Homo sapiens: one gene and its partners. The protein of the gene in region 1 purifies or fractionates together with the protein of each later gene. This does not show direct contact. Each region holds a gene or a part of one and is shown in the gene's direction. Other genes may lie near its edges. The genes, in order: KIF22, USP47, SFMBT1, HMGXB4, UTP4, PGM2L1 and ZYG11B.

The links.
Region 2: the proteins of KIF22 (region 1) and USP47 purify together in Homo sapiens (affinity purification with mass spectrometry; 2 studies listed by BioGRID and IntAct, with this or other methods). This does not show direct contact.
Region 3: the proteins of KIF22 (region 1) and SFMBT1 purify together in Homo sapiens (affinity purification with mass spectrometry; one large-scale study listed by BioGRID and IntAct). This does not show direct contact.
Region 4: the proteins of KIF22 (region 1) and HMGXB4 purify together in Homo sapiens (affinity purification with mass spectrometry; one large-scale study listed by BioGRID and IntAct). This does not show direct contact.
Region 5: the proteins of KIF22 (region 1) and UTP4 purify together in Homo sapiens (affinity purification with mass spectrometry; one large-scale study listed by BioGRID and IntAct). This does not show direct contact.
Region 6: the proteins of KIF22 (region 1) and PGM2L1 purify together in Homo sapiens (affinity purification with mass spectrometry; one large-scale study listed by BioGRID and IntAct). This does not show direct contact.
Region 7: the proteins of KIF22 (region 1) and ZYG11B purify together in Homo sapiens (affinity purification with mass spectrometry; one large-scale study listed by BioGRID and IntAct). This does not show direct contact.

Annotation. Positions count from the first base shown.
Region 1 is NC_000016.10:29,800,751-29,803,317, forward strand, and holds part of KIF22 (kinesin-like protein KIF22), read left to right. Parts: exon of another isoform or gene 1-52; intron 53-2,018; coding exon 2,019-2,187; intron 2,188-2,567. UniProt on the Homo sapiens protein: Kinesin family member that is involved in spindle formation and the movements of chromosomes during mitosis and meiosis. Binds to microtubules and to DNA. Plays a role in congression of laterally attached chromosomes in NDC80-depleted cells.
Region 2 is NC_000011.10:11,939,472-11,942,971, forward strand, and holds part of USP47 (ubiquitin carboxyl-terminal hydrolase 47), read left to right. Parts: intron 1-957; coding exon 958-1,077; intron 1,078-2,863; coding exon 2,864-3,500. UniProt on the Homo sapiens protein: Ubiquitin-specific protease that specifically deubiquitinates monoubiquitinated DNA polymerase beta (POLB), stabilizing POLB thereby playing a role in base-excision repair (BER). Acts as a regulator of cell growth and genome integrity.
Region 3 is NC_000003.12:53,036,074-53,039,573, reverse strand, and holds part of SFMBT1 (scm-like with four MBT domains protein 1), read left to right. Parts: intron 1-3,500. UniProt on the Homo sapiens protein: Histone-binding protein, which is part of various corepressor complexes. Mediates the recruitment of corepressor complexes to target genes, followed by chromatin compaction and repression of transcription.
Region 4 is NC_000022.11:35,291,993-35,295,492, forward strand, and holds part of HMGXB4 (HMG domain-containing protein 4), read left to right. Parts: intron 1-999; coding exon 1,000-1,122; intron 1,123-1,614; coding exon 1,615-1,659; 3' UTR 1,660-3,500. UniProt on the Homo sapiens protein: Negatively regulates Wnt/beta-catenin signaling during development.
Region 5 is NC_000016.10:69,156,649-69,160,148, forward strand, and holds part of UTP4 (U3 small nucleolar RNA-associated protein 4 homolog), read left to right. Parts: intron 1-435; coding exon 436-592; intron 593-3,500. UniProt on the Homo sapiens protein: Ribosome biogenesis factor. Involved in nucleolar processing of pre-18S ribosomal RNA. Part of the small subunit (SSU) processome, first precursor of the small eukaryotic ribosomal subunit.
Region 6 is NC_000011.10:74,329,816-74,332,433, reverse strand, and holds the end of PGM2L1 (glucose 1,6-bisphosphate synthase), read left to right. Parts: 3' UTR 1-2,118; downstream 2,119-2,618. UniProt on the Homo sapiens protein: Glucose 1,6-bisphosphate synthase using 1,3-bisphosphoglycerate as a phosphate donor and a series of 1-phosphate sugars, including glucose 1-phosphate, mannose 1-phosphate, ribose 1-phosphate and deoxyribose 1-phosphate, as acceptors.
Region 7 is NC_000001.11:52,823,953-52,827,452, forward strand, and holds the end of ZYG11B (protein zyg-11 homolog B), read left to right. Parts: 3' UTR 1-3,384; downstream 3,385-3,500. UniProt on the Homo sapiens protein: Serves as substrate adapter subunit in the E3 ubiquitin ligase complex ZYG11B-CUL2-Elongin BC. Acts to target substrates bearing N-terminal degrons for proteasomal degradation with the first four residues of substrates being the key recognition elements.

The DNA of each region.
Region 1 (2,567 bases):
GCAAGACTGCATCTCAATAAATAAATAAGTAAATAAATAAATTCCCCCCAAATTCTACTCCATTGAATCACTAAAGTCTAAGATTAATCTCTCCTCAGTGCTGCTGCCTTGGGGACCTAAGGAGGCCTCCTCCTGGGGATCCTTTCCATTTTCCAACCCCTTTAGCCTTCAGCAAAACTTCTCACTTTGGGACAGCTGTTTCAAGGATGAGCATTTTTGCTTCTGGTTCAAGGAGTGATCTGGATCAGATCTTTCAGATCCATGAGAGCAAAGCAAAGGAGACTTGGAAGAGCTGTCCTGCTGAGACCATCTGGTCTGTGTGTCAGTGCCCAGCTTCTCCATGACTCTCCGGGGAGCCAGCTGCTGTCCTAACTGCGTCTACCCTCAATCCAGATAAAGCCTCTAAACTAAGTCCTTTGTGTCACCTCCTGCCCCAACTCCAATCACCCCACCTCATGGCCCAGTATGTACTAATCCTCAGGTCATCTCTGTTCAGGGGTCTTGCTTTCTGTGTCTGGCCACTTAGCCCTTGCGCTATTCCCTCCACCCCCCAGGAGCCAGTTGCAGTTTTAACTTTGCCCTGTTTCTACCCCTAGCCCAAATAAAGCCTGTGAACTACTAAACAGAGGTGACCTGAGGTGGCCAAGGGTTAGTGCCCACTCTGTCCCAGGGGGCTACTGTAGTTAAGGAAGATGCCACACACAAGAAGATGCTTGTGCACTCATGACCCCATCTCTCAGTCTTGTCTTTCCCAAACCATCTGTCAGCACTCCCCACTGCTGTGTGCACCCAGAAATGTGCACAGGTAAGCTGTCAGACAGGCACTCTGAGTAAGGGGAAGCTCAGAGTTGGGCACATCAAACCCAGCAGACCCAGAGCTTGGGGGCCTCACAGGAGAGCAAGTCAGATGGGAACATCAGTATATGATACCAGGTGGAGAATTCAGAATCAGGAAGGAGTAGCTGCTGCTGCTGTGAGAGTCAGGAAGGAAGAGATGACTTCTAGTGTTTGCCCACGTATGTTCTGATCCTGTTTTTCCAAGGCACTAGCATGGAAAGCACAGGAGTGTCCCTGTCCTCCAGGAGCCAGTTCACAGCATAGGAAGGGAGATGCATTGTTAAGCTTGGCGTCATGGGAAAGGTGGCATCAAACTGACCTGGAAAGATTATTGATACAGATGTGAGGAGGTGTGGGGCAAGATTCCAGGCAAAATAAATGAATGTTAGACGTTGCTGACTGGGCGCAGTGGCTCACACCTGTAATCCCAGCACTTTGGGAGGCCAAGGTGGGTGGATCACTTGAGCCCAGGAGTTCAAGACCAGCCTGGGCAACATAGTAAGACCCCATCTCTACAAAAAATAAAAAAATTAGCTGGGCATGGTGGCATGCACCTGTGGACCCAGCTACTCAGGAGGCTGAGACAGGGGGATTGCTTAAGCCTCAGGAGGCCAAGGCTATAGTGAGCTGTGATCTCAACACTGCACTCCAGCCTGGGTGACAGAGCAAGACCCTGTCTCAAAAAAAAAAAAAAAAAAAAAAAAAGAATGTTAAGCCTTACCGTGCTCAGAGTCAGTCAGGACTGCTTGAACAGGCCTTCCCAGCTGCCCACAGCAGGGAAGCTTGGCAGCTGAGGTCTTCGGTGGATTTCAAAGCCCTGCTAAAGATGGCATCCTCTGTGATGTTTTCCGCAACTGCTCCTCCAAATGGATAGGCACTGTCCTGGCTGTCACCTTATTATGGTCTCTTGATTTCCTCAGTAGACAGTGCCTCCAGGGCAGGGCAGTGTCTTAGGTCTCTCATACCTGGCACTCAAGTGTTCGCCTGATTTCCTGGCATCCCCGAGCAGTCACTTCACCTGATGAAGACACTGCACCCAGAGAAACTGGATGCCTAGCAAGTTAACATTAGGTTCTGGAGCTACAGGATATACCAAGTTAAGGTGTGGTGAGGGGAGTCCTGCTGCTGTAGGTGGTGATGAGGGAGGAGGTAGGTGGGGAGCAACTTCTTTTTCTGCTCAGCCCCCTACAGAAGCTAAGCAGCATGGACCCGGCCATGCTGGAGCGCCTCCTCAGCTTGGACCGTCTGCTTGCCTCCCAGGGGAGCCAGGGGGCCCCTCTGTTGAGTACCCCAAAGCGAGAGCGGATGGTGCTAATGAAGACAGTGGAAGAGAAGGACCTAGAGATTGAGGTACGTGTTTTAGGGATGTGGGAGCTGGATTCCTATTGGCCTTGAGAAGCAATCCTTGGATCTTCAGACAGGGAAGGACACTCAGGCTGGACTAGAGTCCAGTTTTCTCCCAATACCGGAAGTTCTCCAGCTTCTGCTTGAATGTCCTTAACATGGCTGAACTTTGACAGACAATTGAGACCAGATGTGAGGGTGAGAAGAAAAAGTTCAAAGTAAAAGCAACAAATGTTAAACATTACATTTCCTAAAGCCCAGCTCAATTAATTGAGGACTGTGCTTGAAAAGCCTTTCCCTTCAATATTTGCAGAGGCTTGTTCCACCTCTGGGTAGCCCCCTAATCACAGAAAGCCCTTAATTATGTTAGGCTCCACCTGTCTCCT
Region 2 (3,500 bases), on another chromosome or scaffold:
AAAAAGTCTATATTTTGACTTCTGTATATGACTTCTAACAATTTTGCTAAAGTAATAACCAAGAAACAAATCATTTTGTGAAATTATATTTTATGATTAAATTGCTTGTAAATGCATACTATGTTGGTATAATATACTGTATATTACATTTTTAAAATATGAATGACAAATGTAAAAAAAATTAGTTTAATAAGCACTCACACATAATACAAAAGAAAGAGACACAGTAGTTTCTTCCCCAAGAAGTTAATAATCTTACTGAGAAAAATATGTCTATAGAGAATAAAGGCAGTCACAAAACATCATGTAAACAAATACAGTATTTTTAACCAGCCTGCTTAAGAATTAGGTATTTATAACTGATGACCTTAGTTGCATTGAAAAGAAATTGTGTTTTTTAAATGTAAAGTATTTTTATCTGCTGCTTTCATGTCAATTTATAAAATGACTCCAAAAATTAAAGATGTGGACTTTCAGAAAAACTTAAAATTTTCCCTACTAATCTTCTCATTTTACACAAAGGAAAATTGCTTATTGCTTTAATAAAAGTATTAAAAACTATTCACAGACTATAGAAAGGCCTGTCAAAAGCCAAGAAGTTCAACATTTTGATATCAGCAGTCAAAAAGTCAGTTACGCAGTTTCTTTGGAATCAGATCACTCATTTACTTGGCAAGTTTGAGAGCAATAGAGATTCTAGGAAAAAATCCTTACCTTTAAAATAGTTTCAGAGCATACATTTATAAATGGTACTTTGTTCTCCTGATTTGCAGTATAATTTATGGCTATAAGTAATTTTTCCCTTCAATTATTCAAAAATTTTAAAACCTCTACTAAAATTATGTTTCTCTCTGCTGCTTTTAAGAAGAACTCAGCAGTGTCTTGCTTTCCCATATTTTTAAGTCAAGCAGAATTATTTTTGAAAGAGTACTTTTTATTAAATTGCTTTCATTATAGGCCATCCATTTACCTGCTGAAACAATGAGAATAGTGCTGGAACGCTGCTACAATGATTTGCGTCTTCTCAGTGTCTCCAGTAAAACCCTGAAAGCTGAAGGATTTTTTAGAAGTAACAAGGTATGTCATTTACTTTTTCATTACTATTTTCTATGCTGGTAGTAGTAAATGAAATTAGGTTCAATATTATAAGCCTGGCCTCCACAGCTGTTCAACATCTGTCTGGAACTTAATTTAAAATTCTCAACCCAGTAATTACCTTCCTTTGTAGTCAGGTCAGGTCAGGCTCCCTTCTGTCCTGTGAATCAGTCCTACTGGTTCTCCTCTTCTTTGCCTTTGTTCATGTGCACTCCCACCTGGAGTGTTCTTCCTCCTCTCCCTGCATTTTTTTTTTTTCAGTCTCCAGATTAGTCCTACCTCTTTGGTGAAGACTTCATAACCATTTCTTCCCACAGTGATTATGTCCCCTGGATTGTGTTTATTCTTGAGCTTGTCCCATAAAGCAGTGCTTCATGGTGAGGGTCAGAGGCATACCTGGTATAGAGAAAATTATAATCTTGAGTTCACCCAACATTATTCCTTTTGCCTACTTATTTTTCTCTGTTGGAAATGAGAAAGTTCATGTTAATCCTCTTCTTTTGTCTTGCTATTATTATGTGTTTGATCATTTATCATTTTTCATATGTGTTTTTATCACTCTAGTCTCATTCATCTTAGTACAGTCTAGTCTTTTATCTCATTTAACTTTTTTAGTATTTTATTACTAATATGTAATTTTTATTCACCTACACTTCTAAAACTTTTGTGTGGTGGGGGAGGGGATGTACGTGTATATGTGTGTGTATATGTAAAACATTAAAATTTCTAATCCCCTCCAGTACATTACTTTAGGGTAAGAAGTGCAGTAGGGAAACTTTTCTTTTTCCTTAAACGGTTAGCGTACTGGTTTCAATTTGTAACATTTACTGAATAGGATAATGATAGTGTTATCCTTTTATGCAAAACCCAACATGCTATTTATAATTGCCAAATTTATGCCAAGTACGAATTTCATTTTAAAAAAAGATTTATTATGGAAAATTTCAAACGTAAACAAAAGTAGAGAAAATAGGGAAAATAGAGTGAACCCCCACACATCCCCATCTCTCAGCTTCCACAGTGATCATCTCGTTTCATCTATAATTTAACCACCTACTTCGCCCAGATTATTTGATAAACTTCCTCAGGATCATATCATTTCATCTATAGATAATATGAACATATATATCTAAATGAAGAGAACTCTTTTAAAAAAATGACAATTACATTATATACCTAAGAAATACCTTAATATCAGTCAATATCTAGTCAGTGTTCAAATTTCTCTGATTGTCTTAGAAAATTTTTTTCTGTAAATTTTCCTGTGTCTTTTTTGTTTGCTTCCTTGCAGTTTGTTACAAAGCCAAGTCATTTGCCCATTAAATTTTTCCATGATCTGGATTTTGGTGTTATATTCACAAGGTGTCTTTACACATGTTCCTGTGTCTGTAGTTCAGGCTAAACTTGGATTTCCTAAAGGTGAAAGATTTCTACAATCTAAAGAAAAACCAGAGTATTAATTTCCTAAAGAGAAGGATATATAATACACAACTTTCTGAAATTGGACAACCCAATAAACAAGATGTTTGTGTGTATGTGTATGTCCATACCGTCTATCTTAGTGTAGTTTTATGGCTAGTTACAAAGACATTTGAGCCTAATGTTCATTTTATTCAGTCTCCAAAACAATAGAGTCCTTCAGAAACTATATCATCACACATGTTATAACATAACTGTGTATTGTGTTGTATTGATGCAATATAATGATGATGATGAATGAGCATGTCACTAAAATTAATATATAATAAAACTCTGACTTACTATGTAGGTGTTTGTTGAAAGCTCCGAGACTTTGGATTACCAGATGGCCTTTGCAGACTCTCATTTATGGAAACTCCTGGATCGGCATGCAAATACAATCAGATTATTTGTTTTGCTACCTGAACAATCCCCAGTATCTTATTCCAAAAGGACAGCATACCAGAAAGCTGGAGGCGATTCTGGTAATGTGGATGATGACTGTGAAAGAGTCAAAGGACCTGTAGGAAGCCTAAAGTCTGTGGAAGCTATTCTAGAAGAAAGCACTGAAAAACTCAAAAGCTTGTCACTGCAGCAACAGCAGGATGGAGATAATGGGGACAGCAGCAAAAGTACTGAGACAAGTGACTTTGAAAACATCGAATCACCTCTCAATGAGAGGGACTCTTCAGCATCAGTGGATAATAGAGAACTTGAACAGCATATTCAGACTTCTGATCCAGAAAATTTTCAGTCTGAAGAACGATCAGACTCAGATGTGAATAATGACAGGAGTACAAGTTCAGTGGACAGTGATATTCTTAGCTCCAGTCATAGCAGTGATACTTTGTGCAATGCAGACAATGCTCAGATCCCTTTGGCTAATGGACTTGACTCTCACAGTATCACAAGTAGTAGAAGAACGAAAGCAAATGAAGGGAAAAAAG
Region 3 (3,500 bases), on another chromosome or scaffold:
TTAAGTACATTGACATTGTTGTGTAACCATTACCACCATCCATCTCTAGAACTTTTTTAATCTTCCCAGACTGGAACTCTGTACCCATGAAACAGGGATTCCCCAACTCCCCTCCTCCCACCCTAGACAACCACTGTTCTACTTTCTGTCTTTATGATTTTGACTATTCTAGGTACTTCATCTAAGTGGAATCATACAGTATTTATCCTTTTGTGATTGCCTTAATTCACTTAACATAATGTCTTTAAGGTTCATCCATGTTGTAGCATGTGTCAGAATTTTTTTTGAGGAAGTAAATTATTTGAAAGACTTCCACAGCAGGTAAAGTGGAGGTCAGGTCACAGAATACTGTTTGCTAGGATTTGTTTACCTCCCTTGGAAGAACTCCGTATGTGCCCAGCAGAGCCTAGAGAACCAGGTACCTTGTCCTTAGATACAGTTTGGGCACACTTGCTTATTCGAACAAAAGAAACAGAGCAGATTGTGACAGCAGGGTGGAAGACAAGGAGAACATAAAAGCAAAGGTTGCAGGAGTCCAGGGTAACATTGAGTAAGGAGTAAGGCCTTTTGGGTCTCAGGATGCCATCTTACTGTGTGATCACTGACATTCGTGGTGTGGGCCTGTGTCAAAGCATGTCGTCCAGAACAGTTAACCAAAAAAATATGTGTGTTCAGAATTGTAAATAAGCCTTCACCTATCTGAAAGGCATATTCAGTGACTCAATCCCCAGCTGTTCTGGTTAGTTGAGGTTTTGCCATATTTCACTCTTGTTTCTGTATTGATAGAAAACTAGTACGTGTTTAAAAAGGCTTAATGACTTACATAATAATGATACCACCTAATTAATGCTTTGTATTTTAGATTTGCTGTATCACTTTAATTCTGTATTTGTGAAATATAGATGTCCAATCCTGGTTGGAGAGAAAGCAGGTTTGACAGTTAAGGGTAATAGAGAGTTGAGCAGGTATGTACTTTCAGAATGGTTAAAGAGTTATATTTTCCTCCATTATTATTTTTAATGGCTGTATTAATGTAGTAAATGTGGGATGAGTTTCCTAATACTGTTTGTTACCGGGGGGAGGCCATCTCTTAATTACTGTCCTTTCTTCATGGCAAGGATGTTTTTGACTTTCTGGAAACCATTGAAGAATAGACAGTAAATGTCATGAAGCCTGATTTTTATTGTGCGTTGTGTTACTATTCAATTCTTAAGAATGGTTAGTTGTTTCCTAGAGTTAGTAAGGCTTTTCTGAGAAAGTATCAGTTTCTTTGGCATGATGTTGTCTAATAGAGCATAGAGCCACGGTAGTAAAAGTCAATGGTTAGGGGAGGAGATACAGGGTAGGAGACAGTTGTCTAAACTGGAGTGCCTGGGCTCAAGCACTTCTCCTGCCTCAGCCTCCTGAGTAGCTAGGACTACAGGTGCATGCCCCAGCACCTGGCTAATTTTTTAAAACATTTTTTTTTTGAGACAAAGTTTTGCTCTTGTTGCCCAGGCTGGAGTGCAGCGGTGCAATCTTGGCCACCTCCGCCTCCTGGTTTCAAGTGATTCTACTACCTCAGCCTCCCGAGTAGCTGGGATTACAGGTGCCTGCCACCATGCCTGGCTAATTTTTTGTATTTTTTGGTAGAGACAGGGTTTCATCATGTTGGCCAGGCTGGTCTTGAACCCCTGACCTCAGGCGATCCATCCGCCTTGGCCTCCTAAAGTGCTGAGATTACAGGTGTGAGCCACTGCGCCGGGCCTTTAAAACATTTTTTGTAGAGATGGGGTCTCTCAGTGTTGTCCAACCTGGTCTCAAAACTTCTGGCCTCAAGTGATTCTCTAGCCTCAGCTTCCCAAAGTGCTGGGATTACAGGCATGAGCCACTATGCCCAGCCTGGTTTTCATTTTTATCATTGAGCAAAATGAGCAGGGTTGGGTGGTCTAGCTAAAGATAGAAATTTGAGAAACTTCGGGTGTATTATTGTTGTTATAGGTGTTTATGATGGTATTAAAACATCTGAATCCCTTGATCTCTTAATGTAATTAATATTAATTTAATTTTATTTCTCTTTTAATGTTGGCTTTCCAGTCCTCAATCAAGTTATAGTTGCACTTAAAAATACGTAGTTTTCTTTATCGTTAATATGAATAACACCATATGCAAATTGGGAAACAGGCTTAGATCTTCTCCTAGGCATTATCTGTACCCAGTTTTCCTGTAAGTATTCAATTGGGCTCCTCAATCAACAGAGAAGAGCTTCAAATGACTTTCTTTGTTGTCAGGCTCCATTCTCAGGAATGGCTATGACAAGGGAAGCAGAGGGCTGGGTGGTCTCTTCTGGCCTCCCCTTCTAGGGAGAGTCTTCCTTTTCTGCAGCAAGTGCTTGAGGAGGGCTGCATGATCCCGCAGCCAGTCAGGGCGGTAAGACACAACTGCCCTCACCCTAGCTCCTCTCCTAGCCATTGACTTTTACTCCTGTTTTTGGCTTTCTATTGACTTTGTCTGACAGGAGTGCTTTCCGGAATAGTGTGCTGGTGAAATGTTGGGTTCTCTACAGCCTCCTTCAGAGGATTCCCTGTTCTCCCTATGCCTCGTCTTTTATCTCATTGTGACCTTCATTTTCTCCCAGAGTCCCAGCCCCATCAGGCCTGGACCCACTGTCTAATCTTTGAGCTGCTCCCTAGCCAATCCACTTTGTTCTTTCCCTCTTTCCCTTCTGTGGCCCCGTAAGCCACCTGCAGCCTTCCAGCCAGTGCCTCTCTCTGCTCCTGGATATAGACTACCTTGGAGGAGAATTCAGGTTCTCCAGAAAGACCTGTCTTGAGGCAGACCTTTCTGTCTTTGCCTTCTGTAACCTTTTAAGACCTTCCCTTCTTTCTATTTACATCTCTCTCAATGAAGTTGTCCACATTTAGAGTTTGTCTAGCTCCTGTGCTCCTCTAAGACCCCTACATCCCTGCCCGTTGGGCTTCCAAGTTGGGTGCCACACTGGCATCTCAGAATCCACAGGTCCAAAATAGAATTTCTCCTTCTACCCCAAAGACGCCAGTCCTCTAGTGGGCCTGTTTGCCCAGGTCTCTTTCTTTACATTGCTCCTCAGCGATGGTGTTTGTTTTGTCCACTGGGAGCTTTCCTGTGGGACTTGAGGTCTTATTCTTCAATTGCCAGCCTTGGAGTTAGAACGTACAGTTCTGACTCCTTGGTTTTCAAGTGTTTTTAAAGTTGTGGAACCCTTTGTTCAAATGAAATCTTTCTAGGAAGCCCGATAAGTAAAATAAAATGAGAGTCCTCCTAGTGGAGTAGGGGTGAAGGGCCAGCATCCTGTCCCACGGCAGGATAGCTGGACATTCTCTGCTTCCCTCTCCTCCCAGGCAGGACTGGCGGCTGGCTCTTGGGGCAGCCTTCCCAGTGGATTCTGCATAAATGGAGCTCCTCAGAGTTGCTGTCAGCACTGCTTTGAGGGCATGCTCTATGTTTTAAACCATTTTATCTATTCTGTACCCCACTTCCTT
Region 4 (3,500 bases), on another chromosome or scaffold:
ACTTTGGCAGAGAAATGGATGCTCAAAGGAGGGCTAGATTTGCATGGGAAGGTTATTCTTCCTTACAGGAAGTTGAGATGGAGAAATATCCAAAAGGAGAGACCCAAAAGACAGCCAGAAATGCAGTTTTGAAGATCAAGATGTTGGTAGTAATATTCATAATTACTGATATTTTTTGAGTACTTAACCATGTATTAAGCACCATCCCAAGTATATTATATCTATTATCTCAATCCCATCTGCTGCAGATGCTGTTAGTATCTTACAGGCACAGCATAGTAAGCAACTTGCCTAGGTACAAAACAGTGAGTAGTGGAGCCAGGATCTGGACCCGGGCAGTCTTGAATCCGGAGCTCATTTTCTTAAGGACTGTGCTGTGTTGCTTCCCAATATGACATATTCTCACACTGCTTCTAGTTAAAGCAGATTATACAAGAACTCGGCAGCAGCAACAGTCTTTCTTATCTCTTTGAATCACAAATAGACAATATGAATTACATAAAATGTTAAAATTTGAACCAAATTCACTTTGAGAGTGAACAACTCAACCTAGAAAAATTGTATAATCAGCTATCAAAAGCTACATACATGCAGGGTTGTAGGATTCTCATAGTAATCACATCTGAGCTATATTTGTCGAGTTTATAACAGATATACTTTGCATACATAATCACAAATCTTACCAACAGCTCTCCAGAGTAGGTAAAGCATTTTTTACTGTTCCTGTTAAGGAGACAGAAGTTAAGGATGTGAACTCCCCAAGGTCACTCAGAAGGTAAGAAGATGGGCTAGGATTACGGAAAGGGAACATGGGAATGTGCTGTAAAAGTTTTCTTTCTAAACAACTTACAGAGTTATCAAAGTAAACTTTCCATTTCTGCTGTAAAGTTTCAAATTATAAGAGTAGAACTGCCTAGGATTTAAAGTACTGTGTGAGGAAGTCAGCCGGAACACAGCATCAGGAGTGTGACTCAAGCAACAACCTCCTCTCCTTTTCAGGGTATGGTGGCTGTGTCTGGCAGTTTGTCAGTGCTTCTGGATTCCATTATCTGTGCCCTTGGCCCCTTGGCATGTCTCACCACACAACTACCTGAATTGAATGGCTGTCCCAAACAGGTCTTGGTGAGTTTTCCCTGGATTTTTAGAGTCAGATCCATTGGGCGTCAGAGATGCCCTGCCTTAATGAGCACTGTCAGACACACATAAGGCTTTGTGACACACAGTGCTTCCTTCATCTGTTGGCCCATGGAACATGATGCTATATTATCAAATGCATGCTGTACTTTCACTGAAACTAGAAAACAAGCCATTTACCAAAACAGTACTTAAGAAAGCAGCATTCTAGCCCTTGAGGTACTACAATTCCTGTGTTTCCTGTTTGCTATTCTGCACCCAAAGACAGTACAGGAATTGTTTCCCTCTTTTTTACGAGGATTAATGGGAGAAGTCAGCAGAAAAGTTCCTAGCATAACAAACAGCAGGATGCCGTCTTCATTCTCACCTGTTTTTCTAACTCCATTTGATTTTTCTTATCTCTCTCCTTGAACAAAGAAACATCTCTCAGGAAACCAAGGTACAGTACTCTTCAGTTGAACATTTTTCTTTGTTTTGCAGTCAAACACATTAGACAACATTGCTTACATCATGCCGGGACTGTGACAGCAAAGAATCCTGGGACAGAAACCTTATCCTACACCATTGCTGGTTTGTGTATATATGACTGTTGCAGATTCCTTCAGTGGCCTCTGGCTGTAGGTTTTAAATTTTTATATCTATACATACATATATACATATATATATAATGTACAATATATACATAGACTGTAACTACTTTGCTTTTAATAATTTTATGAAATGGCAAAGGTTTAGCCAAGAGGAAATTTTGGCATGAATACAGGCTTGGGATTCTTTTTTCTCCTGTGGTGGATAAATCTGCCTTAAAAATCAATGTAACTTGGGGGCTGGGGGCTTGTTCTGGGTGCCAAGCGCATCTCTTTATGGACAGCTAAAATGTGATTATTTTCCAAGCTCAGTTGGACCTCCAGACCCATCACTGACCATTTGCCTTACCTGTCTTAGTCTGAAATGTAATAGGAAAGATAACGGGAAGATGCCAGTTGACTGAAAATTCAAAGCCTTTCAATTTGAAGTGACCTAGGTGGGAGGTGATAAAATTTGTTCCCTTTATAGTTATGGAAGTGGCTTAGGTGAATTGAGTAGAGGGTTCATTCCAATTCCTACTGTATAGGTGTCTGTGTCTCAAAATTTATTGTAATCATTGGTACCATTGGTGGCCTCAACAGAGGCCAAGGAGTTCTGTGAGCCCTGGCAGCAAAAAACACCTTGGGGGGTGAAGCTGTCAATGCCACCAGTTGGACCTCCATACATTCTGAGCTAACCCAGAATCTTTAGTCGGCAGAATTAAGTGCTGGTGTCTTTCACTGGCAGCATGAAGTTAGCCACCAAGTCCTCACAAGCCGTGCTGCTTAGTTGCTCGGTGGTTATGGATAAACTTTGCCCAGCATGATTTTTGGGTTCATCTTATCAGTTCCCCTGGTGGGCAGATACACAGTGTTCTGCATTCCACATGTAAGTGAATTGCAAAAACAAAACAAAACTCACTCTCTTGTAGGTTTATTTATGTGTGTGTGAATGTGTATTTTAATTATGTGTATTTAACTCTTTAAAATCTCTTAGATTTTAATTTATCCTGTAAATTTCTGTATATATAATTTAATAACAGAAGCCTCCACCAGCAACAGCATGTGGAAGATACAGATTTGTCATTTCTCCCTTCCGCCCTCCCTTCTTTCCTTCCTTCCTTCCCTGTTTCCTTCCCTCTTTCCTTCCTTCCTCCTGGTCTGTTCCAAAAACTCTGAATCATCTACATTTTAAGGTATTTTACCTCAAAAATGAATCATTGTGTTAGGATTCTAATTCTTTATAAAGAACTTCATGGGCTTCAATAATGTCTAGAAAGTAAAATAAAGAGGAATGTTACCATCCCCAGCTGCCCTTATTTCCAGAGAACCAGACGTTTGTTTCCCAGTTGGAAAGAAGACAGTTGAGCACTTCAGGATGGTTTTTAAATTTGGTATGAGATTCTCTGCCAACACCAAGCTCTGAGTTAACTGTGCTTTCTTCTCCTGGCCCTGACAGAGCACTACAGCATCAAAGTAAATCTTTGGGGACAGTGTAGCCCATCTGCATCCTATTTAATTTCTTCCCTTCTCCCCACCAGTGTTGTCACAGGGCTATGTTGCTTAAAGGTAGTCTGGCTGCTGAATCCCTTTCTCAGCTCAGAGCAGTTTTAAGATTTAATTGGGAATACAGAGAAACAGGATTGTTTGAGAACCAAAATCAAGAGGAACAGAAATCTTAACTTGATTTCATGTGTTAGAACATTGTACCATGCCTCTTCTGTATCTGTGGAAGTTTCCTGTTTGACACAGGGTATCTAGGAGGGGCGGGGAAGACATGGATAGTATAGGAAGACATTA
Region 5 (3,500 bases), about 39 Mb from region 1:
GGGTTTCACCACGTTGGCCAGGCTGTCCTGAACTCCTGACCTCAGGTGATCCACCCCCTCAGCCTCCCAAAGTGCTGGGATCACAGGCATGAGACACTGCGCCCGGCCCACACCCAGCCTTTATTTCCATTTTGAAATTTTGAGGTATGTTCTTAGAGGGATAGGGTAATGCCCTACAGGCAATAAAATTAAAGCTTTTCTGTTTAGTGGTTTCACGTGCGACTTAGTTATTTCCTTGATAGAGAAGTGAATATTTAGTAAAGAGATGAAAGGGGGATGTATAGATTACTGGAGAGAAACCAGTGTTCTGTGCCGAGTCAGTTGGCTTACTTAGAGACAGGAAGCATTAATGTACCTTAAGCCTAGCTGTGATTGTTTCTGATGGGCTGTAGGTCTCCCTTCTCTCACTGGCTTTTATTATTGGTTCACCCAAAGGTTTCCAAAATGCCAGCATTCCTTCGCTCTGCCCTTCAGATTTTGTTTTCTGAAGATTCAACAAAGCTCTTTGTAGCATCAAATCAAGGAGCTCTGCATATTGTTCAGCTGTCAGGAGGAAGCTTCAAGCACCTGCATGCTTTCCAGCCTCAGTCAGGTGGGAATCTGGTAACTGGCCATGGGGAGACTTGTCGTGTCTAAGATGTAACTTTTTTGCTTTTAAGCCTCCATGTCGGGGGTTCCCTCATGTTCCTCCTACCCTGCAGATACACTCACTCACATGTTTGCTGTTTCAAGTAGGAGGAGATAGCTGGCAGATGAAGACTCTCGATGAGATCTGCAATGTTCTTCACACCTACTCTTTTCTCACTGGGTTTTTGATTCCTTATTTGGGGCCAGAGAAATTTCATCATCCTTAGTTTGTTAGCAGAACAAGAAGAAAGTTAAAGTCATTTGCAATCCTGACACCCAGAAATAGCTACCATTAATATTTTGGTATTTTCTAATATGTATTTGTATATAAGTATTTTGTGGGCATGTTGCCTTTTTTGGTTGTTTGTTCATAAAAAGGTACAATCATAGATGGCTGCCACCTCGACCTCTTGGGCTCAAGTTATCTTCCCATCTCAGCATCCTGAGTAGCTGGGACTATAGACACTCACCACTATGCCCAGCTAATTTTTTCATTTTTTTTGTAGAGACGGGGTCTCATTATGTTGACAAAGTTGGTCTTGAACTCCTGGGGTCAAGTGATCCTCCCATCCTGCCCTCCCAGCTGAGATTATAGGCATGAGCCACTGTGCCTGGCCCAAAAGTATTCTTATACATACAGTTTAATTACCTGTGTTCATATAATGTTCCTGAGAATTTTTCTGTTTTCATTGAGAATGTGAGTATTAATGAATGAGTGTGGCTATGTAGCTAGCTATGGCTAACTGTTAAGGACTTGGACTCAGTTTCCAGATTAAGCTGGTAGTTGTTTTGATACTTCCTATGGGCCTTTCACCTCTCCCTTGTCCTGGATTTTAGCTGCTGCTTCACTGTCATTTACACTCCCATCAGCCTGGAAAGTCAACTCTTTTTTTTTTTTTTTTTTTTTTTTTTTTTTGAGATGGCCTCACTCTGTTGCCGAGGCTGGAGTGCAGTGGTGCGATCATGGCTCACTGCAGCCTCACCCTCCCCAGGCTCAGAAAATCCTTCCACCTCAGCCTCCCAAGTACACAGGAGCATACCACCACACCCAGCTAAGTTTTGTATTTTTGTAGAGACAGGGTTTCACCATGTTGCCCATCCTGGTCTTAAACTCCTGGGCTGAAGCAATCCTCCTGCCTCAGCCTCCCAAAGTGCTAGGATTACAGGTGTGAGTCACCATGCCTAGTGAAAGTCAACTCTTTTATCTTCAACTCTCACTGTTCATAAGCTGATCCAGAAGCCTACAGGAGAAGAAACCCACAAGTTAGGGGTCAGATAAATCAAACTATTTATTATCTATATATGTTTTTATTACAAAACTTAGGCTATTTATCTTATATCTAGCTCTCCTTGAGATTCGACTCTACATTATGTATATGACTTTATTTTTTCCACTTCTCTCATCTCACTTCCCCTTGTAGTCAAAATGGTTTCTTCACAGCTCTCAAACCTGCATATTCTACTCCTCGTCACTTAGCTTGCACTGTTCCCCATCCTTTTTTCCTCATCCCCACCCATCCTTTGGCAGCTGGGTTATGCTTGTTATAAAGCCATGTTATCGTTTGGGGGCGTTACATGCAGCACGCATTTTGGCATAGAGCATCACTGTCCAATTTTTATCCCACACTAGTTGTCGTGTTGCCAGATTGGTTTAAAGTCTCTAGATGACAAAGATGGCTCAGACGTGCCCATCCTCCCTTAGTGCTAAATACACAGCAGGCATCCAATAAATTAAAGATATGCTTCAAGTCTATTGAACTTGCTGTTTGTCCGTAACTTTTTTTTTTATTATTAATTTATTTATTTTTGAGATAGAATTTCAAAAGACAGAGTTTCTTGTGCCCAGGCTGGAGTGCATTGGTGCCATCTCGGCTCACTGCAACCTTTGCCTCCCAGGTTCAAGTGATTCTCCTGCCTCAGCCTCCCTAGTAGCTGGGATTACAGGCACCCACAACCACGCCCAGCTATTTTTTTTTTGTACTCTTAGTAGAGATGGGGTTTCACCATCTTGGCCAGGCTGGTCTTGAACTCCTGACCTCAGGTAATCCACCTACCTCTGCCTCCCAAAGTGCTGGGATTACAGGTGTGAGCTACCACGCCTGGCCTGTCCATAATTTTGGCTTAAAAAAAATTTAGGGGCCGGGCACAGTGGCTCACACCTCCCAGCACTTTTGGAGGCCGAGGTGGGCAGATCATAAGGTCAAGAGATCGAGACCATGCTGACCAAAATGGTGAAACCCCATCTCTACTAAATATACAAAAATTAGCTGGGTGTGGTGGTGCACGCCTGTAGTCCCAGCTACTTGGGAGGCTGAGGCAGGAGAATGGCTTGAACCCGAGAGGCAGAGGTTGCAGTGAGCCGAGATTGCACCACTGCACTCCAGCCTGACAACAGAGTGAGACTCCGTCTAAAAAAAGAAAAAAGAAAGAGGCCAGGCACGGTGGCTCACGCCTGTAATCCCAGCACTTTGGGAGGCCAAGGTGGGCGGATCATCTGAGGTCAGGAGTTCAAGACCAGCCCAGCCAACATGGTGAAACCCCATCTCTACTAAAAATACAAAAATTAGCCAGGCATGGTGGTGGGTGCCTGTAATCCCAGCTAGTCAGGAGGCTGAGGCGGGTGAATCACTTGAATTTGGGAGTTGGAGGTTGGAGTGAGCGGATCCGCCACTGCACTCCAGCCCGAGTGACAGAGCTAGACTCCATCTCAAAAAAAAAAAAACAAAAAACAGAAAAAAAACCATTTGGTAGGAAAGGAGTTTGAAACAATTAAAGTATATATTTTAGTGGCAGATGCTGCCGTCATTCTCTATTCCTGTAGTAAGCAGTGTCTTAGGCCTGAGGAAGTAATAACTTCTGTTTTATCTCTCTGG
Region 6 (2,618 bases), on another chromosome or scaffold:
TTTGGTTATTTTGTTAATGTTGTCATTATATTTAAGACTTATTGTAGGAAGTAATTTTAAATCTATTTCATAACCTGTTTTGATCTGTCTGCATACTGCTATATGTTAATTTATTACGGCCTTTTACAATTCACTTGTCATCTGAGATTGTTCTAGAAACTGATGAGGAAAGAGTCGTACTAACCAAAATGAATGGGCAATTGACATAACATTCTATTTCAGGTTTCCTTGTACTTGGGGAGCCAAAGCACAAGATCTAAGGAAATCTTATTCACATTTGTCCCTCAGAGCATCTTACCCTAAGCCATAGAGGTATAAATAGTAAGATGAGAATTGCTCATTGTCTGACTCCTTGCACAGCATGAATTTAATTCTAGTTGGAAACAAAGTTAGTGTTGACTACTGGTTACCTTAAAGTATTCACCATACTATATATTTATTAGACCATCTTTCCTCTTTGTTTATTCAAGACTATGTACTTATAAAAGAGAACCTATAAGAATGTGTAGAGTGACCAAATAGGGACAAAGTGACATACCTAGAGTTTGCTGCTCAAATTTTTCCACTAGCGTAACCCTAAAGCAGAGGGGCATGATGAAGGGGGAAGGGGTTCTGAGAGCAAAATCAGAATCAGCCTACCACTGACATGAAGTGTGTTCTGTCTTTAAAATGTAAGTGAATTTTGCATTCTTTATAATAAAACTTTTAATATAAAAATGATATGTTTAATCTTTACTGAAACTTATGCCACCACAAAGGAGCACCATGTTCATCACGTGGCTGCTCAGTTTTCTCCCCCAGTGCCCTCACCCCCAGTGGAGGCAAGTCCTTGAGCTACACACACTGGCTGTAGTGCAAGATATATAAACATAGGCCGGGCTCGGTGGCTCATGCCTGTAATCCTAGCACTTTGGGAGGCCGAAGCAGGTGGATCATCTGAGGTCGGGAGATTGAGACTAGCCTGACCGACATGGAGAAACCCTGTGTCCACTAAAAATACAAAATTAGCCGGGTGTGGTGGCACATGCCTGTAATCCCAGCTACTCGGGAGGCTGAGGCAGGAGAATCACTTGAACCCAGGAGGTGGAGGTTGTGGTGAGCCAAGATCGCGCCGTTGCACTCCAGCCTGGGCAACAAGAGTGAAACTCCATCTCAAAAAAAAAAAAAAAAGATATATAAACATAGAACATATCCAGACTATTTCCTGCCCTTGGAATCTGACCTTCAGAAGGATTAATGCCAAACTAAACTGACCTGAAACAGTTTTGTTACTATTGGCATTCCTTGACTAAAAAGGACCACCTGATGCTCAGTCCCGAGAGTAGGAATCGTGGTTTATTATTTTTCATATCCATACCACCTAGTTCAGTACCTGTTATAGAGTGTTTAATTGCTGATACTAGGAATTAAGGGATTTTTTAAAAGTAGCAAATAGTTTAAGGAACAATCAAAAAATGAATTTTCTAATTCAGTTTTTTCAATGAAGTCCCATCACTGAACTTTATAATGTAATGTTTATTAAGCAGACATCCCCTTAAATACTCAGTTTCTTTGGAGAGAGCAAAGCATATCTCTCTGTGGAAATTATATATAATGCCTGGTATTTTACACTCAAAGCAAGGTGTTGGCCAGGAAGGTAAAGAAATGGTGTCTATGTAGACTTAATATCACTAGTCTAAGTGTCATTTTGAGCCTAGTAGCACTACCTTCCAAGTGAGTCACAACAAATTTGATCCTATTTGGTATGTTTTTGTCCACTGTTATGATTCATCATGTATCTTACAAGAGCCACTCAAGCAAGACTCTGCTTCTATGTATGGTGAGGCCTTGTTGTTCTAGGCTAGAATAAACTCTTTGTATGCCTCATTGAATATGCCAGGTAAAATTTATGCAGTCAAGAATGAATTATTTTTCTGACTAAAGTGTGTAGCAGTAGTTCAAAATTGTGCCCTTGTTTTAACAGTTTCTGTCAACATCTTCTCATTTTTCCCTACAAAAACACCAGGGTGTATTATAAGTACTGCCTGTGAGAATTTGCACTTTATGTATTTGTGTGTGGATTTCTTGTGGTTTTAGCCAAATGAAGTGTTATCAGTAATAAACAGGTCTCTTCATAGGCATGAGTTTCTGTGTAATTTTTATTTGAGATACTGTGTAGTTCATAAAGCTTGCTATCTAAACAGGAAATACTCTTGAAATACACACATCACATACCCTAGAATCCACTTTGCATCTAAATGAATATTCTGGCTTAGTACTCAGGAAATATTTCTTGATTGGTTTATCAGAAGTCCCAGATGTGAGAACTAACATTAACATTCTTATTTTTCTTTTCTTTTTCTCTCCTTAAGCTGATCTAATTTGTTTGCCCATGTTAGCGCCAGCTACTATAATAAGACAAAAGTTTAAAGTTTGGAAATCTCTCACGGTAATAACCGTAGATCTATGCTTCAATACTGATGAAGGACTGAGTTTCCAAGGGTTCTTATGAATCTGTGGTCCTGGTCTCTGTTGCCTGCCTTTCCCAGATCAGGCTCAAAGGGAAGATGACTGAAAGGAATGTTCTACGAGGTCCTTTTGTCAGCTTCTAAATGGAATATTCTGAGAACCATGCCGAC
Region 7 (3,500 bases), on another chromosome or scaffold:
AAACCCCGTCTCTACTAAAAATACAAAAACTAGCTGGGCATGGTGGCTTTTTTGCACGCCTATAGTCCCAGCTACTCGGGAGGCTGAGGCACGAGAATCACTTGAACCCAGGAAGTGGAGGTTGCAGTGAGCTAAGATCGTGCCACTGCACTCCAGCCTGGACAACGGAGTGAGACTCTGGGGAAAAAAAAAATTAAACTTCCTACTTTTTTTCTTTTTGTAGAGACAGAGTTTCACTCTGTCGCCCAAGCTGGAGTGCAGTGGCACAATCATACCTCACTGCAGCCTCTTGGGCTTATGTGATCTTACCCCCTCAGCCTCTGGAGTAGCTGGAACTACAGGCTAAATTTCCTACTTTGTAAACATCAGTAGTGGCCAGATACTTCTGAGTCTTAAAAGCATAATAGGCCGGGCGCGGTGGCTCACGCCTGTAATCCCAGCACTTTGGGAGGCCGAGGTGGGTGGATCACAAGGTCAGGAGTTCAAGACCAGCCTGGCCCAAATGGTGAAACCCTGTCTCTACTAAATATACAAAAATTAGCTGGGTGTGGTGGCGGGCACCTGTAATCCCAGCTACTCAGGAGGCTGAGGCAGGAGAATCGCTTGAACCTGGGAGGTGGAGGTTGTGGTGAGCCAATATCATGCCACTGCACTCCAGCCTGGGTGACAGAGTAAGACTCCGTCTCAAAAAAAAAAAAAGCATAATAATTTATTACATCCCAAATATATAAAAATTTGAGTGCCTTTGCAGTTGGGATGGTTCCTAAAATTGCGTATAGAATTAAGGCACAGAATTGTGTGTAAGGTCCTGAATCTGGCTAAAATACAGTGGATGTATGTATTGGAATTATGAGGCATAAGTAGCCAGTATCTATAGTTAGAATCTACAAGGCCTCCTTTTTGCACCTGTAGACTAGAATATAACTGTTATTGGTGCCTTTGAGTGTTATCTCTCAGTGGCTAGAGGTGCTGTTTCAAGCACAATTTAGACTAGGGTTGAACCACTCATTGTTCAAATCATTGGTGGGCTCCAATGTAAAATATCACTACATCAGTCCACAAGCAACATTAAGGAAATCTAAAGGAAATGGAATTTGACTTTTTAGAGTATAATGATGTTCTAGGGCATAATGAGGAAAATTTTTAAAAAATAGATTATAATGATACATATTGGTATCATTAAGACAACAGATTTGAGCAAATACAATTAAGGTGTCTTATTTTTTGCATCAAGTAATTATTGCTGTGGTCTTTCTACTCCACAAAATAATTTTTTCTTTTTGCAGTTGAAAATTAACTGCATTATTAACTAATTAATAAAATAAATCAAGTGGTATAAGGGATTAGTTTACCCTCAAGCCGATGACTCCATGGCTACTGATATTAGTTAGTTTAGGATTTTTAAAAAGCATATCAGACCCCCAGTTTCAGGAATTGAGTATAAATATTGCTTCTTGTCACCCTGGGACAGTAATGCCTTATAGTGGCACTAGTCACCTTAAGTAGATTACACATGGTTGAGGTGAATAAAGCTGCATGGGAATTTGCTTTCGTGATATATTTCATTTGCAAACTTCTACATAATCAAGTTTTATGTTTAAAACCATCGGTTCTATATATCTAGCTTTAGGAAGTTGCCCTTACAGGTGGGACCTTTTGTGTTAATCTGTTTTCTCCCCAGTCATCTTATTTGGCTATGTTAAAAAAAAAAAAAAAAAAAAAGCGAGAGAGAGAGATGGTGTCTCACTGTGTTGCCCAGGCTGGTCTCGAACTCCTGGCCTCAAGTGACTTTCCCACCTCAGCTTCCCAAAGTGCTGGAATCACAGGCATGAGCCACAGTGCCTGGTCTTAGCTGTGTTTTTAATTATGCCATGCATCAACATAACACCGGGCCATCTTCCTATCCCTTCCTATCCCATATGTTTAATGAAAACATATTTTATGTGCTAAATTAGGTTAATTTACCAGAGATTTAGCTTAGTGTTTTTAAACTATAGAACAATACCCCTATAGAACAATGTACAGCTGCACCCAAGGTTAAAAAGAGGTAGCAGGGAAAACAAACTTAAACTCTTTGTATATGGTGAAACCCATCCCTCTCCTGCCCTCTAATGGTATGTTTACATTATTTCGTTATTATACAATGTAGTGGTATAAACAGTATTATTAAACTGAAGGCATAAGTTAAAGGAAGTATGTTACTTTGAGCTGATGTAGGCTCTTCCACTTTTATCTGTATTTTACTTATTTGGGGACTTTGTATTGCTAGGGCTTCAGAATACTAACTTTGACACAGCTCCCAGAGAGGTTTGCAAACTTTTGGTTTCCCTCTCAAATCCATGGTAGTAGTTTCAAATGAGTTTGTGGATAATGGATGTTTAGTCCTTATCATTTGCTGTGTTTTGACAGTTTTTAATTTGCAGTATTCACTCACGAACTGTTTTATTTTAGGAATAATGCAAAACCAACCTTCGTCCGGTGATGAGAATAGCCGTATGATAAGAGAATTTGCTCATCGTGCTTTAAATGATTAACTGTTTTACCTTATTTAGTATTTCATAGACTTTGCATGATATGGTACACTCCTAATTATGCATTCTTTGGTTTCCAAATCTTAATCTAAGATACTTTGTTAACTGACTGGTAGCCTAAGAAAGAGACTTTTCTTCCTGTTTTTCTCTCTCCCCATTTTTTGGGGTAAGTTTTGCAAAGATCAGTGCTGCTTCTCATGACTCTAAAGTAAAGCTCTTTTGGATAGCACAGCCTAACTTTACAGCTAGACAGAATGGCCATTAAGAATATTTCCAAAATCCAAGTTTATCAAAATTATTTTGTGGGAAATCATCAATCTATTTTATTAATGTTATGTGTTTAATTTTGGACTTATTTTGGGAAAAACTGTTCAAATTGGGTCCTTTTAAGCTTATTTTAAGCAGCCTAGAAGGAAGAAGCTACTTAGCTAATGAAAGCTGAGACACTTTATTAAAAGCAGGATCTTAAGAGCATTGTTTTTCCTTAAAAACTTTATACTCTCAGATAATCTGCAACAACAAAAATTAAGAAATCCCTGACTTTTGTAGAATTCCCACTGTCAAATTCTCACTGACTTATGAGTGTGAGAGAAGTTATCTTTTGTTTGAATTCTGATAGAACAGTTTAACTCCTTTCTAAGGATATAAAAAATTCATTGGAAAGTGTGTATATTTCAAAGACTCTCAATTATCTGGACTGAAGGCACTGTTCTCACTATGGCCAGATGAATGGGAGTATTCTGTACATGAATCATGCTGTATTTTAAATCAGGACATCACTTAAGTATTAATGTTGTGTGTACAGATTTTTGTTTTGGGATTTTTTTTGCCTAAATAAATGTTATAAATTTTATGTAAAGTGTGTCTTGTCTACTTTTATTCTAGACATTTGGCTTTAAAAGTTAATATTAATGCAAACTTCAAATTCCTTAGTGATCCACTTGTAATGATTGCTTTCTGAAAAAGGCT